2 separate regions of the Homo sapiens genome follow, and region 1 is linked to region 2. Evidence: fine-mapped expression QTL. Tissue or cell type: whole blood. Region 2 holds a variant in brackets; the other region holds the start of a gene. All regions are shown on one strand. Distances are from middle to middle.

Region 1 (7,772 bases), 66 kb before region 2:
CGCTTCAGCCTTCCAAAGTGCTGGGATTACAGGTGTGAGCCTCCATGCCTGGCCTCTGTTTCCCTCCTATGACACTGTGATTACATTATGGCCCACAGGATAATCTCTCCATCTCACGGTGTGTAACTTAATCACATCTGCAAAGTCCATTTTGCCACTCAAGGCAACATTCACAGGTTCTAGGGATTAGGACCTGGATATTTTGGGGGACATTATTCAGCTTGCTACAATGTCTAAATTCATCTTTTAATTTCATGTATTTATACAAAGGCATACATTTGACATAACAGGGACTCTATTGGCGGGCGTGGTGGCTCACACCTGTAATCCTGGCACTTTGGGAGGCCGAGGCAGGTGAATCACGAGGTCAGGAGATCGAGACCAACCTGGCCAACATGGTGAACTCCTGTCTCTACTAAAAATACAAGAATTAGCCGGGCATGGGCACATGCCTGTAGTCCCATCTACTTGGGGGGCTGAGGCAGGAGAATTGCTTGAACCAGGGAGTTGGAGGTTGCAGTGAGCTGAGATCGCACCACTGTATTCCAGCCTGACAAAGAGAGACTCCGTCTGAAAAAAAAAATAAAAGCGGGGGGACTCTATTATACGTGCCGGAGTTTTTTTTTGGGGGGTGTGTGTGTGTGTCTGTGTGTGTGTTTTAAAAGACTGTCTCACTATGTAGCCCCAGGCTGGTCTGAAACTCCTGAGCTCAAACAATCCTCCTGCCTCAGCCTCCTGAAGTGTTGGGATTACAGGTGTGAGCTACTGTGCCTGGCCCCCCACCCTCTTTTAAAGTTACTGGTGTTGACGTGTATCTTCTATTTTTCTTCATACTCACATAATCAAACATAGTAGTCCTCCCTTATGTTTCAAGACCCCCGGTGGGTGTCTGAAACTGCAGAGAGTATTTAGCCCTATACAGTATATACTTTTTTCCTACACATACCTATAATAAAATTTAATTTATAAAATTGGCACAGTAAGAAATTAACAACTCATAATAAAATAGAACAATTATAACAATATACTGTAATAAAAGTTATGTGAATGTGGTCTCTCTCTCAAAATATCTTACTATACTCTAGTCACCTATTTTCAGAGGGTAATTGGCTGTGGTAACTAAAACCGTGGAAATCAAAACCTCAGGTAAGGAGGTGACTACTGTATATATTGCAAATAAAAAATCAAATTTGGTTAAGGAGAGACTTTATTTGTAGGGATTATTGCAAATGGGGATGGGTGGGGACTGTGGGGAAGGGTTCCTGCAGTAGGAGGGGGCCTATTCCCTACTGGTGGGAAGTGGAATGAAAAGGTGGCTCTCCACTGGATAATAGATTAGAGAATGTTTCACCCTGAGGCCAACTTCTCAGGAGGGGCTATTAAGGAGGGGTTACCTGCGGCTCAGGGTCAGGGTGGGTGAAAGTTCAGAGGTATGAGGGAGGAAGAGAAATTCAACCAAAATCTTTGATTAAAAAAAAAAAGGTGGGAGGCTTCTTTTCTTTTCTCTTTCTTTCTTTCTCTCTTTCTCTCTTTCTTTCTTTTTTTTTTGAGACAGTCTTACTCTGTTGCCCAGGCTGAAGTGCAGTGGCACGATTTTGGCTCACTGCAACCTCTGCCTCCCGGGTTCAAGTGGTTCTCCTGCCTTAGCCTCCCAAGTAGCTGGGATTACAGGCACACACCAAAACGCCGGGCTAATTTTTGTAGTTTTAGTAGAGACGGGATTTCGCCATGTTGGTCAGGCTGGTCTCGAACTCCTGACCTCAGGAGTAATCCGCCCGCTTCGGTCTCCCAAAGCACTGGGATTACAGGCGTCAGCCACCGCGCCCGGCCTAGGAAGGTTTCTTAATTGTCATTACTTTCCAGGAGCACAGGGCTCAGGTAGAATTCAACGTTGTCAATATGCAGGGTTAAATGAGTTGTTTACTTTACAAAAGTGACATCTTAAATGTGCTTCTAATGTCCTCTTGTTTCATAATATGCTTGTATTATAATACTTAATTAGTCTCTACGGATGACCACGTTCTTAGTTTCAAAGGTTTTTTTGAGGTTCCTGCAGCTGCTAAACTTGGGGTTCCTGAAGTAATATTTCATTTTCGAAAGCTGTTTTTTTTCTTAGACTCCTCTTACAGAATTGCCAGCTCGTCTGCACAGCCTGTCTATTTGAACCTACGTTTATTTTGACCCACCCCAACCCCCAAAGCAGGTGGCCAGGAAAAAATAAAAGGTCCCAACACCTTTTCTTTTGTTTTCTGGATCTCCTCCTTTCCGGAAGCAGGGGGTCAGTGACAGGAACTTTTCGACCCCAGCTTAGTGTCTCTTAATCCCTCTTTAGCCCGTGGAAGCCTCGGAAGGCGTGGCCAGGGCAGGGCATCCAAGCCGAGCGCCGGGGGTTGGCACCGTCTCTCTCCCTGGCACGGCGGAGACAACTGAATACTGAAAGACAAAACCAACACACCGCGAGGAATGAGCCACGCCTCCATCCACGCCACAAAGGCACGTTTCCAAGATCTTTTTAGGATCTTACCCATGTTTTGCAGGGAAAAGCGACACAGACCTGAAGCGCCTTCAGGTTTTTTTTTTTTTTTTTTTTTTTTTTAAGACGACGTCTCCCTCTGTTGCCCAGGCTGGAGTGCAAAGGCGCGATCTTGGCTCACAACCGCCGCCTCCTGGGTTCAAGCGATTCTCCTGCCTCAGCCTCTCGAGTAGCTGGGACTACAGGCACCCGTCACCACGCCCGGCTAATTTTTGTATTTTTAGTAGAGACGGGGTTTCACCATATTTCCCAGTCTGGTCTCGAACTCCTGACCTCAGGTGATCCACCCGTCTCGGCCTCCCAAAGCGTTGGGATTACAGGTGTGAGCCAACGCGCCCTGCCAGCCTTCAGTTATTTTAATGAAGCGATTTTGTACAAATCAGCCAGAGGGAGGGAGAGTGGGAGGGAAGAGGAGGGGTCAGCCAGTCCTTCCAGTTAGGAGAGTCCCGGCTCACTCACTGCTTCTAACTCACTGCTCACTCACCGCTTCTTAGCTTAGGAATCACCTACAATAACCTCGTGTCACTGTATCTTGTGATTTCAAACAAGGAACCCTAAAAACCTGAAGGCACACTGGGTGCCGCTCAACAATAAGGCTCGGCTGCCAAGACGAAAAAAAAATTGCCCTTTCTCCTCCTGCCACCCTGGAGGTGCCAGGTTGTAATCTGCAAATGTATTGTCTGGCCCTTAGGGCTTGACAGTTAATGATTGGTCGCTGAAGGAGCCGAGCGGAGGAGCGAGAGGGACGCGAGCAAGCGAGCGAGGGAGGGAGCGCAGGGCCAGAGCGGAGCCCCAGCCGGCCGCACAGGCACCGCCTCCCGTCTTCCGGGACCCGGCACTTCGGGGGTTTTGGGCGCCGGAGACGCGCAAGGGCGCCGATGGAGGCAGACTCGCCAGCGGGCCCCGGCGCCCCAGAGCCCCTCGCGGAGGGAGCGGCGGCCGAGTTCTCCAGCCTGCTGCGCAGGATAAAAGGCAAACTCTTCACCTGGTGAGTGGAAGGGGCGTGCTGCAGCTCCGCTGGGGCGTGGGGGCGGCTGCGGGCCCTGCGCGCACGTGGACAAGGAGCACACTCTCTGAGGCCCCCAGCAGGGAGGCAGAGGTGGCGGCCGCACGGACTTCGGTTCGGGGCTCAACACGCACACCAGGTATGGTGCGCTTCACCTGGCGTCGGGAAGCACTTGGTGCGTCTCCCTCGGCTCCCGTTTCGAAATCGTGGCGATGTATTTTGGAGGATTTGGGGGGAAACCCACCCTGTGGCACTATTAGGTCGGTCCTCTGGGGCGTTCCGCGGTGGAGGGACGAGGTCCCCGGGGATGCTGTGAAGGAGGAGTGCCCACCTCGGGCTGGGCAGGTGGGTGAGCGCCACTTCCTGGCGCCGGCGCCCTCATTCCATCTGCTGCCGAGCCAGCCAGACTGGGCGCGGTGATTCAAGAGTTGACCGAAGTGAGAAATCCTGGTTAAGTTTTGTGCTGCTGCCGGGTGGGAGACCAGAGCCGGCTCTCTCTTCCTGGGCCTGAGCGAGGTGATATAGCCACCCCCAGGGCTGGGGTCCAGGGAAGCCTGTTTGTGGTATCACTATGCTCTGTGCGAAGTAGGGACAAATGTTTTTAAGGAGTGGGCAGCGACTCTAGAAAGCGTTTCTGTGGTTGCTGGAGGACTTGCACTCTGGAAATGAGAGAACCCAGGACCTAAATAGTGAAAGACATTTATTGGGCACTCGCTCTGTGTCAGGTACTGTGCATAACAATTTATATGGATAATATCAGCTAATCCTCACCACTTTAGGAGATGGTACTATTGTTATATCCACTTTGCCGCTGGAGAAACAAAGAAGGCTAAGCAATTTGCCCAAGGCCACAAGATGATCTTTAAGGGGTGATGCGTTCAAGCCGTAGTCTAAACAGCGTTGGCCACTGACAACTCATGAAACAGATATTTGATTTTTTTTTCATATTAACAAAGCGAATTTCCCTTTAACGATTGTGAAAGATAGTCCTGAAAAGCCATACCATTTTAAAAACGAGATCGATAAAGGTGTAAGCATTTTTTATCATATAAATAGTTTGAAATTGATGCATGTGTTTAAAGGGGAAAGTTGGCCGAAAACCACCTTGTAGCATCCAGTTGTGTATGTCCTGATACATTTGTTAAAAGTTCTCAGCTGGGAGGCAATTCAGTGTAATGGCTAAGGGCACTCACATTCTGGACTCAAATCCTGGCTGGGTGACCTTGGACAAGTCAGTTCTCTGTGCTCCAGTTCCCTCCCTTCCCTCCCTCTCTCCCTCTCTCCTTCCTTCCTTCCCTCTCTCTCCTTCCTTCCTTCCTTCCCTCTCTCCTTCCTTCGTTCCCTCTCTCCTTCCTTCCGTCCTTCCTTCCACAAGTCAGTTATCTGTACTCCAGTTCCCTCCCTCCCTCCCTCCCTCCTTCTTTGTTCCTTCCTTCCGTCCGTGTCCGTCCGTCTTGGACAAGTCACTTAACTTCTCTGTGCTCCAGTCTCCCTCCCTCCCTTCCTTCCTCCCTTCCTTCCTCCCTTCCTTCTGCTGGGTGACCTTGGACAAATCAGTTCTCTGTGCTCCAGTTCCCTCCCTCCGCCCCTCCCTTCCTTCCTGCCTTCCTTCCTTCCTGGACAAGTCACTTCTCTGTGCTTCAGTCTCCCTCCCTCCCTTCCTTCTTGGACAAGTCACTTAACTTCTCTGTGCTCCAGTCTCCTTCCCTCTTTTCCCTCCCTCCCTCCCTCCCTTCCTTCCTTCCCTCCCTCCCTTCCTTCCTTCCTGCCTTCCTTCCTTCCTTCCTGGACAAGTCACTTCTCTGTGCTCCGGTCTCCCTCTCTCCCTCCCTCCCTCCCTTCTTGGACAAGTCACTTAACTTCTCTGTGCTCCAGTCTCCCTCCCTCTTTTCTCTCCCTCCCTCCCTCCCTCCTGACGGAGTCTCATTCTGTCACCTTCCTTCCTGACAGAGTCTCATTCTGTCACCCAGGCCTGAGTGCAGAGGCTCTATCTCAGCTAACTGCAACCTCAACCTTTCGGGTTCAAGCGATTATCCTGCCTCAGCCTCCGAAGTAGCTGGGATTACAGATGTATACCACCACGCCAGGCTAATTTTTTCATGCTTTTAGTAGAGATGGGGTTTCCCCATGTTGACCAGGCTGGTCTTGAACTCCTGACCTCAAGTGATGCACCCACCTCCGCCTCCCAAAGTAGTGGGATTACAGGCGTGAGCCACCGCGCCCAGCCTGTGCTCCAGTTTTCTTATTTGTAAAATGGAGATAATAACAGTACCTACCTTGTAGTGCTGTTACAAGGTTACTATGCAGGAAAGGGCAGACAGAGCCTGGCTCCTTTCAGTGCTCTATATGGGTTAGTTGTCACCATTAGCTCTCTATTCTTGGGTGATGGGAACATTTGGTGATTGCTTCAGGAGATGCCAGTGGCCTTGAGGCTGGGGCAGATGATATGGCAAGATGTATGTTTAACAAGATGTGATAAGAATTAACAATGATTTTCTTTTCTTTTCTTCTTCTTCTTTTTTTTTTTTTTTTTTGAGACAGAGTTTTGCTCTTGTTGCCCAGGCTGGAGTGCAGCGGCACGATCATGGCTCACTGCAACCTCTGCCTCCCGGGTTCAAGTGATTCTCCTGCCTCAGCCTCCTGAGTAGCTAGGATTACAGGCGCCTGCCACCATGCCCGGCTAATTTTTAATACAGACAGGATTTCACCATGTTGGCCAGGCTGGTCTTGAGCTCCTGACCTCAGGTGATCCATCTACCTCAGCCTCCAAAAGTGCTGGGATTATAAGCGTAAGCCACCGTGCCTGGCCTGATTTTTTTTTTTCTCTCCTAATGTTCTGATACTTTTGGAATCCGGGTATGTTTTATAATCAGTCTAGTAGCCTCCTAAATATGAGATTTCTTTTGTCTATGAATGTCCTTTTTATGTATCTCTTTGAGGGCTTTTTCCTTTCTTGTGGAATAGCAGTTATGGGCATTTTTTTTTTTTAGACAGAGTTTCACTGTTGTTGCCCAGGCTGGAGTTCAATGGCGCGATCTCGGCTCACCGCAACCTCCGCCTCCCGGGTTCAAGCTCTTCTTCTACCTCAGCCTGCCAAGTAGCTGGGATTACAGGCATGCACCACCACACCTGGCTAATTTTGTATTTTTTGTAGAGATGGGGCTTCTCCATGTTGGTCAGGCTGTTCTCGAACTCCCAACCTCAGGTGATCCGCCCGCCTCGGCCTCCCAAAGTGCTGGGATTACAGGTGTGAGCCACACGCCTGGCCATGGACGAAGTTCTTTAACAGCAAAAATGGTGTCTTTTTCTTTTTTATATCTACCACAACCCTTAGCACATGAATGAATGAATGAGTGAATGACTGAGGGATGACAAAGGTTCACAAGTCTTCCTTTCCATTCTGCCTCCCTCCCTGAACTCTTCCCTTTATTGGTCTTTATTCCAAGGGTCTTGGGCTGAGCTTCTTGTTTGGTTGGCTGGGCTCTTTTGTTAATTAAAGTTTCCATTCCTACCTCTGGCAGCCATCCAAGCACTTGGATTTTGGATTGCAGTTTCTCTTTATCAGACCCAGCAATCAGAAAAGAGTGGTTTACCAGATATCCAGTACTCCTAATACTCAATATTTTAAGCTTTGTTGTCAAAACTCATGTCCCAAGTTTGAGTAGCTTTGTGAATCCCCACCTGTGGCCAGGGAACCAAGGGTGGGAGAGTGTAGAAAGAGGTTGGTGAATGGATATGATGTGTTATCACCATATGGGCAAGATACAGAGAGAGATTTATAACCACATAGCTCATTTCTATTCCTTTTACCAAAAAGGGGCAAGAAGAGGCTTTTTGGGCAACTGGGTACTAAATACAGGGAGAAGATTGGGGCATAGAGCTTGTTATGTTTTCATTATGAGGAGGATATGTTCTAAGTGACCCCAGCTCTTAATATACCTGCCCCCATAGGGTACAGACAACTTTTCTCTATGATTAGGAATATCAGATCACTCATTCAATAAAAGTTTATTGAACACTTACCATGTGCCAGACATTCATGATAATGAGAACCATATATTCCTTAGTGGAGTGTGTAATTTTGGCTTTTGTGATTTATTACTGTCAACTCAAGTGAAAAATATTGTGATAGAAGACCATAGACTTCCAGGAGTATCTGAGAATACTTCTTATTTAATTGTTTATTATTATTATTATCATCATTTTTTGAGACAGGCTCTCACTCTGTTGGCC
Region 2 (7,772 bases):
TGCCTCAGCCTCCCGAGTAGCTGGATAGGTGCCACCACCACACCCAGCTAGTTTTTGTATTTTTAGTAGAGATGAGGTTTCACCATCTTGGCCAGGCTGGTCTCGAACTCTTGACCTCAGGTGATCCACCCGCCTCAGCCTCCCAAAGTGCTAGGATTACAGGCGTGGGCCACCGCACCTGGCCTAAGAGTTCCTTTTCTATACATCCTTGCCAGCATGTTATTTTTTGACTTTTTAATAATAGCCATTCTAACTGAGGTAAGATGATATCTTATTGTGGCTTTGATTTGCACTTTCCTGATGATTAGTGATGTTGAACATTTTTTCATATACCTGTTGGCCATTTATGTCTTCTTTTGGTGAATGTTTATTCATGTCCTTCGCCCACTTTTTAATAGGATTATTTGTTTTTCACTCTTTAGTCATTTGAGTTACTTGTATACTCTGGTTATTAGTCCCTTGTTGGATTAATAGTTTGCAGATATTTTCTCCCATTCAGGAGGTTATCTTTTCACTCTGTTGATTGTCTTCTTTGCTGTGCAGAAACTTTTTAGTTTAATATAGTCCCATTTGTCTATTTTTGTTTTTGTTACCTGTGCTTTTGAGATGTTAGCCATAAAATCTTTGTCTAGACCAATGTCCTAAAGTGTTTCCCTGTGTTTTCTTCTAGTAGCTTTATAGTTTTGGGTCTTATATTTAAGTCTTTAATCCCACCTTGAGTTGATTTTTTTATATGGTGAGAGATAGGAGTTCATTTTCATTTTATACTAATACCATGCTGTTTTGGTTGCCCAGCATTGCTTTGGCTATTTGGGCCCTTTTGTGGTTCCATATGAATTTTAGGATTGTGTTTTCTGTTTATGTGAAAAATAACATTGATATTTTGATAGGGATTGCACTGAATTTATAGATTGCTTTGGGCAGTATGCTCATTTTAATGAGATTAATCCTTCCAGTCCATAAGCATGGGTGTTTCCATTTGTGTCATCTTCAATTTCTTTCATCAGGGTTTTGTAGCTTTCCTTATAGAGGTCTTTCACCTCCTTGGTTAAATTTAGTCCTATTTTATTTTGTGTAGCTGTTGTAAATGGGATTGCCTTCTTGGTTTCTATCTCAGCTAGTTCATTATTAGTGTATAGAAAGGCTACTGATTTTTATATGTTGATTTTGTATCCTACAACTTTACCTAATTTATTGATCAGATCTAAGAGCTATTTTGTGGCATCTTTAGGTTTTTCTGGATATAAGATCATGTCATCTACAGAGAGGGATAATTTAACTTCTTCTTTTCTAATTTGGATGCCTCTTATTTCTTTTTCTTGCCTAATTGCTCTGGCTAGGACTTCCAGTACTATGTTGAATAGGAGTGGTGAAAGTGGGCATCCTTGTTTTTTTCCAGTTCTTAAAAGTAAGGCTTTTATATTTTCCCCATTCAGTATGATGTTAGCTACTCCATTCCTAATTTTAAAATCAGGTTAGCAGGATTAATCATAAGTTGAGTTTGCTTTTCCAGTTGAAAGGAAAAATAAGGCCCTGGGTATTTGATTACACATTAGTTACAGTACATAGTTTCTCTAATTTTTAGTACACCATTCTTGGTCAGTCTTTAGCCACTCTCTTTCTGTGCTTTATCATGCTGCTAAACATACATACTGATGGCCAGGCGTGGTAGCTCACGCCTGTAATCCCAGCACTTTGGGAGGCCAAGGCGAGCGGATCACAAGGTCTGGTGTTCGAGACCAGCCTGGCCAACATGGTGAAACCCCGTCTCTACCAAATATACAAAAATTAGCCAGGCATGGTGGTGCATGCTTGTAGTCCCAGCTACTCGGGAGGCTGAGGCAGAAGAATCGCTTGAACCCGGGAGGCAGAGGTTGCAGTGAGCCAAGATTGCGCCATTGCACTCCAGCCTGGGAGACAGAGCAAAACTCTGTCTAAAAAAAAAAAAAAAAGAAAAAATACAGACTGATTTCTTTAATACTTCAACTTTTGTATGGATTTTCAACTCAAGAGGAAATATACAAAATTCTTAATAGAATTTATTTAGACTTTTGGGGTATATCATTTTTCCATATATATACCCAATGAATTAGTGTTCTTTCCTCATTGCATTTTGCTCTGGGTGGTGGTTTTCAGTCTTAGGAAGGGGAAAGTTGGGGAAGGTCACCAAAAACTCCATCCATACTTTTAAAATTTCTGTCAGAATGGGCTCCTGCTCTTTTTGGTCCTTCTGGGAACAGAGAGTGTATGAGATGCCTCTCACAGGGCTCTGTTTCCTATGATTGTCCTCACCGGACCTTACACTCAGTCACCTCTTTGGGCTTTGGACTCTTCTAGTATCTTAGGCTCTTTCTAGCTCTACAATTCTGAATCTGCTCAGTCCACCATAAATTTTACTATGTAATACTTGCCCACAGAGACAAGATAATGTATTAAATTTTAGCAAAATGAATTTCATTGAATAGCACACATTGAGAGGCTGTTGAGCAGATGCCCCTTCTGTACTTCCACATTTCATCATAGTCTTACGTTCCTCTGCTTCATACCAATATTGTAAGCAGTGTCTAGGGTCTGAATGGGGCTCTCTGTGGTATCCATGATGACCTTTTATTTTCTCCACTAAGTGGGACTATATGCAGAGTGGGGTGTAGCTGGATTATGACAGAGAAAAGCAAAGGTCCATTTCTCCTAAAGATCCAAGGATCCAGGTGGCTTATGTGCCGGGTGCTGTTGGCAGAGTCCCATCATTCACCAGCATACATGGGAAGGTTTTGTGCATTAGCATCTCCTTAGGTAACTTTCAGAAAAAAGATCATGAGGCCAGGCATGGCGGCCCACGCCTGTAATCCCCCGCACTTTGGGAGCCTGAGGCGGGCGGATTGCTTGAGCTCAGGTGTTCGAGACCATCCTGGGCAACATGGAAAAACCCCGTCTCTACAGAAAACACAAAAATTGGCCGGGTGTGGTGGTGAGTGCCTGTGGTGTCAGCTACTCTGGAGGTTGAGGCGGGAGGATCACTGGAGCCTGGGAGGTGGAGGTTGCAGTGAGCCGAGATTGTGCCACTGCACTCCAGCCTGGGCCACAGAGCGAGACCCTGTCTTAAAAAGAAAGAAAGAAAGAAAGAAAGAAAATAAAAAGATTATGAGAGGGTAATCCTCGAAGCACAGTTGGCAAAAGCCAGCAGCAAAGATGTGTATGTGAGGGGCACAATTCACTGCCTGTTCTTCCCTTCTAGTTTTCAGGACTCTACATCCTGTCCTTCACTGTCATCATGGTGGGGTTTATCCTGTACTGCTCCACCCCTACTCGCACGGCCGAGCCGGCTGAAAGCAGCGTGCCTCCAGTCACCAGCATTGGGATTGACAACCTGGGGCTGAAGCTGGAGGAGAACCTCCAGGAGACCCACTCTGCTGTCTTGTAGCTGGAGAAGATGGCGCACCCATCCCCCACCAGGATAAAGCAGAGCCTGCTGCCTGCTGAGGGGACACTTGGGGAAATAGCAGACTCAGAATGGACACTCTACAACCCTGGGTTGGATCCAGTGGTTAGGTTTTAGAAAGGAACACTGAACAAAGTTCAAAAGTAGAAATACCAAAATAGAGCAGAAACCAAGCTAAGAGTGTGTTTCTGTGTTTGAGGACCAATATCTGTTCGTGTTGAGGAGATGAGGTGCAGACTCCACACTGGGGTCTTAGAGGCACCAGTGGGAAAGCAGGACTGGGGAGAGATCCAGGACTGAGCCAGCCTCAGGCCAGGGCGGGAAAGCAGGCTGTCCAGGCTGGGCTTGGTGGTCAGGAACAGGGGCAGCTCACGGTGGCTCTGGAGTACGTTTCCTCTGTCAGATGCTTCAAGGTTTTTTTTTTTTTTTTTTTTTGCTGAGGCAGTTATTGTCCACAGGCCTTTGGGTACAGATGAGGCCTTGGGGCTGACTGCATGTGGCAGAAAACGGGTGGGTCAGCCCTTGAAAAGTC[T/C]TGAGATATAAGTGTGAGTACTATACAAGCATTAAACTGGAGTGCAGTAAACCTAGGAACCTTCCCACAATTGTTTTTTTGTTTGTTTGAGATGCAGAGTCTAGAGTGCAGTGGTGCAAGCTCAGCTTACTGTAACCTCTGCCTCCTGGATTCAAGTGTTAGTAGCTGGGATTACAAAAGCATGTGGCCCCACGCCCAGCTAAGTTTTGTATTTTTAGTAGACATGGGGTTTCACCATGTTGCCCAGGCTGGTCTTGACCTCCCGACCTCAAGTGATCTGCCTGCCCCGACCTCCCAAAGTGCTGGGATTACAGGCTTGAGCCACCGTGCCAGGCCTGTTTTGTTTGTTTTTGTAGAGAGATGGGGTTTCGCCATGTTGCCCAGGCTAATCTCAAATTCCTGAGCTAAAGCGATCTGCCCACCTCGGCCTCCGAAAGTGCTAGGATTACAGATGTGAACCACTGTGCCTGGCCTGTTTGTTTGTTTGTTTAAAACATTTCTCCATCACTCATTCCAGGTCCCAGAGCAAACTCTCTCTGCTCTCGGAGCCTGTGACACTGGCTATGTGCTCCACAGTTTCAGTCCCAGGTCATACTCTCCAACAGTTTTCAGAGCTCCATATATATGTAGATGCCATCCTTTCTAAAAACTTCTCACGACCTCCTGGAATATTCCTATTGATCTCATTTTATTTAGCATCAGCTCAAGAAACTAAGTCTTAGTGCACAGTATCACAACAAAGAAAAAGCTTTGTTTTTATAACTGGTAAAAACAAGAAAAGATTCTCATCAAAATGAAAATATAAAATTAATCATTTCTCACCAAAGAGTATGCCTGGGAGCCTCCAGCTGTTAAAAGACAATGCTATTACTACTTCTTATCAAAAATCTGTAATGCCCTGTGATTTTTATGATACTTCTTCAATACAAAGTGTTAATATGTGTCATCAGTATAATAACAACCAACAAAATGCCACTTTCAGAAAACTGTATGTAAATTTTTTGTAACAATGTAAAAAAGAAATGGGGAGTAAGTGTTCACATCATTAAAAGGCTTTGAATTCATGGAAATACATCAACTGTGTGGTTTCTTTGATTAACCATTTCCCCTTGTGGATTTTTTTTCCAGTAAAGCCGTCCTTCAAAACCCTTGTGGATTTTTTTTTCTTCTTTTTTTTTTGTTTGAGTCTTGTCCTGTCGCCCAGGCTGGAGTGCAGTGGTGCCATCTCAGCTCACTGCAACCTCTGCCTCCTGGGTTCAGCAATTCTCCTACCTGGACTACAGGTATGCACCACCATGCCCAGCTAATTTTTGTATTTTTAGTAGGGTATCACCATGTTGGCCAGGCTGGTCTCGAACTGACCTCAAGTGATCCACCCACCTCAGCCTCCCAAAGTGCTGGGATTACAGGCATGAGCCACCACGCCTGGCCTCCTTGTGGATTTTGAATGACTTGACATATTCAGTATTTCTTCATATTCAATTTTTCAGAGTCGTATCCTCTGTGGGGTGAGGCAAGCCTGTCTATTTGGGGACTATGCTGGGATTCCAGGGAATTCAGAGCAAGCTTACCGATCATTTGCAGGAATAAACATTTTCCAATTCTGAATTACCACAATGAGTTTTTTTTTACTTTTTTGAGTGAAGTAACCTTTCATTTTCTGCAACCAATTAAAACTGCCTTTTCAATCGATGTTTGGTTTTTGCTCCCTAACATTAACAACTATGAGAGTGGGAAAGGTTATGTTAAAATGTTTGGCTCTTTTAGGAAGACTTTCAGTTTGATTAGCACACTGATGGTTTAGTTTTAAATTTGTGCTATTTTGCTCATTGTTTCATTTTATTTACACCAGCGACAGCCGCAGTCAGAACTGCAGTTGCTGATCCTGCAAGGTTGCTGTTTGGTGAGCAGGGTCATTCACAAAGTCTTTGGTTACATATTTGGGTGTTTAGGATACATATACACCAGGATGGACTTTAGAAAAAGGAAGTAGGCCGGGTGCACTGGCTCAAGCCTGTAATCCCAGCACTGTTACGTGCAGGTCTTTGTTCTTAGAGCTCCCAAGATGGTGGTGGGCCGCTCCCAAGATGGGGCAGGCCACACCCAAGATGGCAGCAAGCCTTTTGTTCTCTGACCTGGGGTTCTTGGCCTCAGTGGATTCCAAGGAATGGAACCTTGGGCCATGTGGTGAGTGTTAAGCTCTATTAGAAGCCGTGGGTCACGGAAGAGAACCGTGGAAACCAGCAACTAGTGTTCAGTTCGATTAGGATGAACCTGGGCACTTAGTCATGCAGAAACAATGGCGAGCCTTTAGCCTGATCAGGAGCAGCAATGGGCGCCTCGCTGGATCAGGAGCACAGTGGACACTCTGCCAGATCCGGAGGGGTGGAAGTCAATGGTGGGTCTGCAACGGCAGCAAACAGCAGTGGTGGACGGCTCGGCTGGAGCCGTAACAAACACGGACAAGAAGTGTAGCTGCAAGATTTAATAGAGTGAAAACAGAGCTCCCATACAATGGGAGGGGACCCAAAGGGGGTTGCCCGATCCGGTTCGAATGCCTGGGTTTATATCCCGATCATTGTCCCCTCCCCATGCTCTCAGGCGATATATGATTTGACTATTTCTTTACTGCCTACTTTTAGCCTAATTTGTATTTTAGTGAGCCCTTTTTACTACCTGATTGGGTGTGAGCTGAGTTACTAGCCCTGTGTTTAAAGGTGGGTGAGGTCACCTTCCCCAGCTAGGCTTAGGAATTCTTAGCCAAGGAAATCCAGCTAGTCCTGTTTCTCAGCACTTTGGGAAACTGAGGCAGGCAGATTACTTGAGGCTACGAGTTGGAGACCAGCTGGGTTAACATGCTGAAACCCTGTCTCTAAAAAACACAAAAATTAGCTGGGTGTGGTGGCATGCACCTGTAGTCCCATCTGCTCTGGAGGCCGAAGCTGGAGGATCACTTGAGCCTGGGAGGTCCAGGCCCCAGTGAGCCGAGATCATGCCACTGCACTCCAGCCTGGGCAACAGACCCTGTCTCAAAAAAAAAAAAAAAAAGAAAAAGAAAAAGGAGATAGCATTTTTTGAACCCTAGGAAACCATCCAAATCTCAACTTATCTGTGTTGACTTTTTTTGTTTTTTGAGAGATGCAGTGTCCTGATCTTGGCTCACTGCAACCTCTGCCTCCCGGGTTCAAACGATTCTCCTGTCTCAGGCTCCCAAGAAGCTGAGACTACAGGGATGCGCCACCACGTCTGGCTAAGTTTTTTATTTTTAGTAGAGACGGGGTTTCGCCATATTGGTCAGGCTGGGCTCAAACTCGTGACCTCGTGATCTGCCCACCTCGGCCTCCCAAAGTGCTGGGATTACAGGTGTGAGTCACCATGCCCGGCCATCTCTGTTAACTTTTAGAGATATGCTTTGTTTATATATTCAAAACATAAAATTAAACATTTTTAGAGAATAATTTTTGATGTATGTATTATACTAGAAAATACACCACAAGTGAAGGTTAATGTTTTAACATAATTGAGTTACTCACTTGAGTCTGAGTGTTCTAAGAGAAACCTGAAGTCACCCCTTACAACTAATATGATTTGTGTCCCTCCTCACTAAACAGATATTGAATGTTTATCGTGTCTAAGTATTTTAAAGGATACAGATGAAGAGATGTGTAGGGCAAAGCATGGGGGAAGGGGCAAGGGGCTTCCATGCTCTCCCTGGGCACACCACTTTCCAGGAACCTTCATGGCTTCAGCTATCCAGAAGCTCCCCAAACTCACTTCTCTTGGATTTGTTTTGTTGAGGGA

The links. PIP is the estimated chance that this variant, and not a neighbour inherited with it, causes the effect.
Region 1: SLC35F2 starts here. The variant in region 2 is fine-mapped to the expression of SLC35F2 in whole blood (INTERVAL, PIP above 0.99). The same link has a PIP of 0.9 or more in fibroblasts and lymphoblastoid cells.

The regions. Positions count from the first base shown.
Region 1 is chr11:107,854,407-107,862,178 of GRCh38, reverse strand. SLC35F2 (solute carrier family 35 member F2) reads left to right here and starts at 3,392. Exons shown (of 8, transcript NM_017515.5): 1 at 3,392-3,521. The coding sequence starts at 3,412. It overlaps LOC124902746 (a long non-coding RNA gene), which reads right to left and starts at 2,949. Exons shown (of 2, transcript XR_007062876.1): 1 at 2,525-2,949; 2 at 1,190-2,433. RefSeq lists a silencer at 3,267-3,576 and an enhancer at 3,797-3,866.
Region 2 is chr11:107,788,264-107,796,035 of GRCh38, reverse strand. SLC35F2 (solute carrier family 35 member F2) reads left to right here. Exons shown (of 8, transcript NM_017515.5): 8 at 3,236-5,045. The coding sequence ends at 3,421. Among named protein-coding and RNA genes, the nearest start is that of SLC35F2, 67 kb to the left of the region's middle. RefSeq lists a silencer at 5,252-5,461. The variant T/C (reference allele first, on the strand shown) is at 3,972.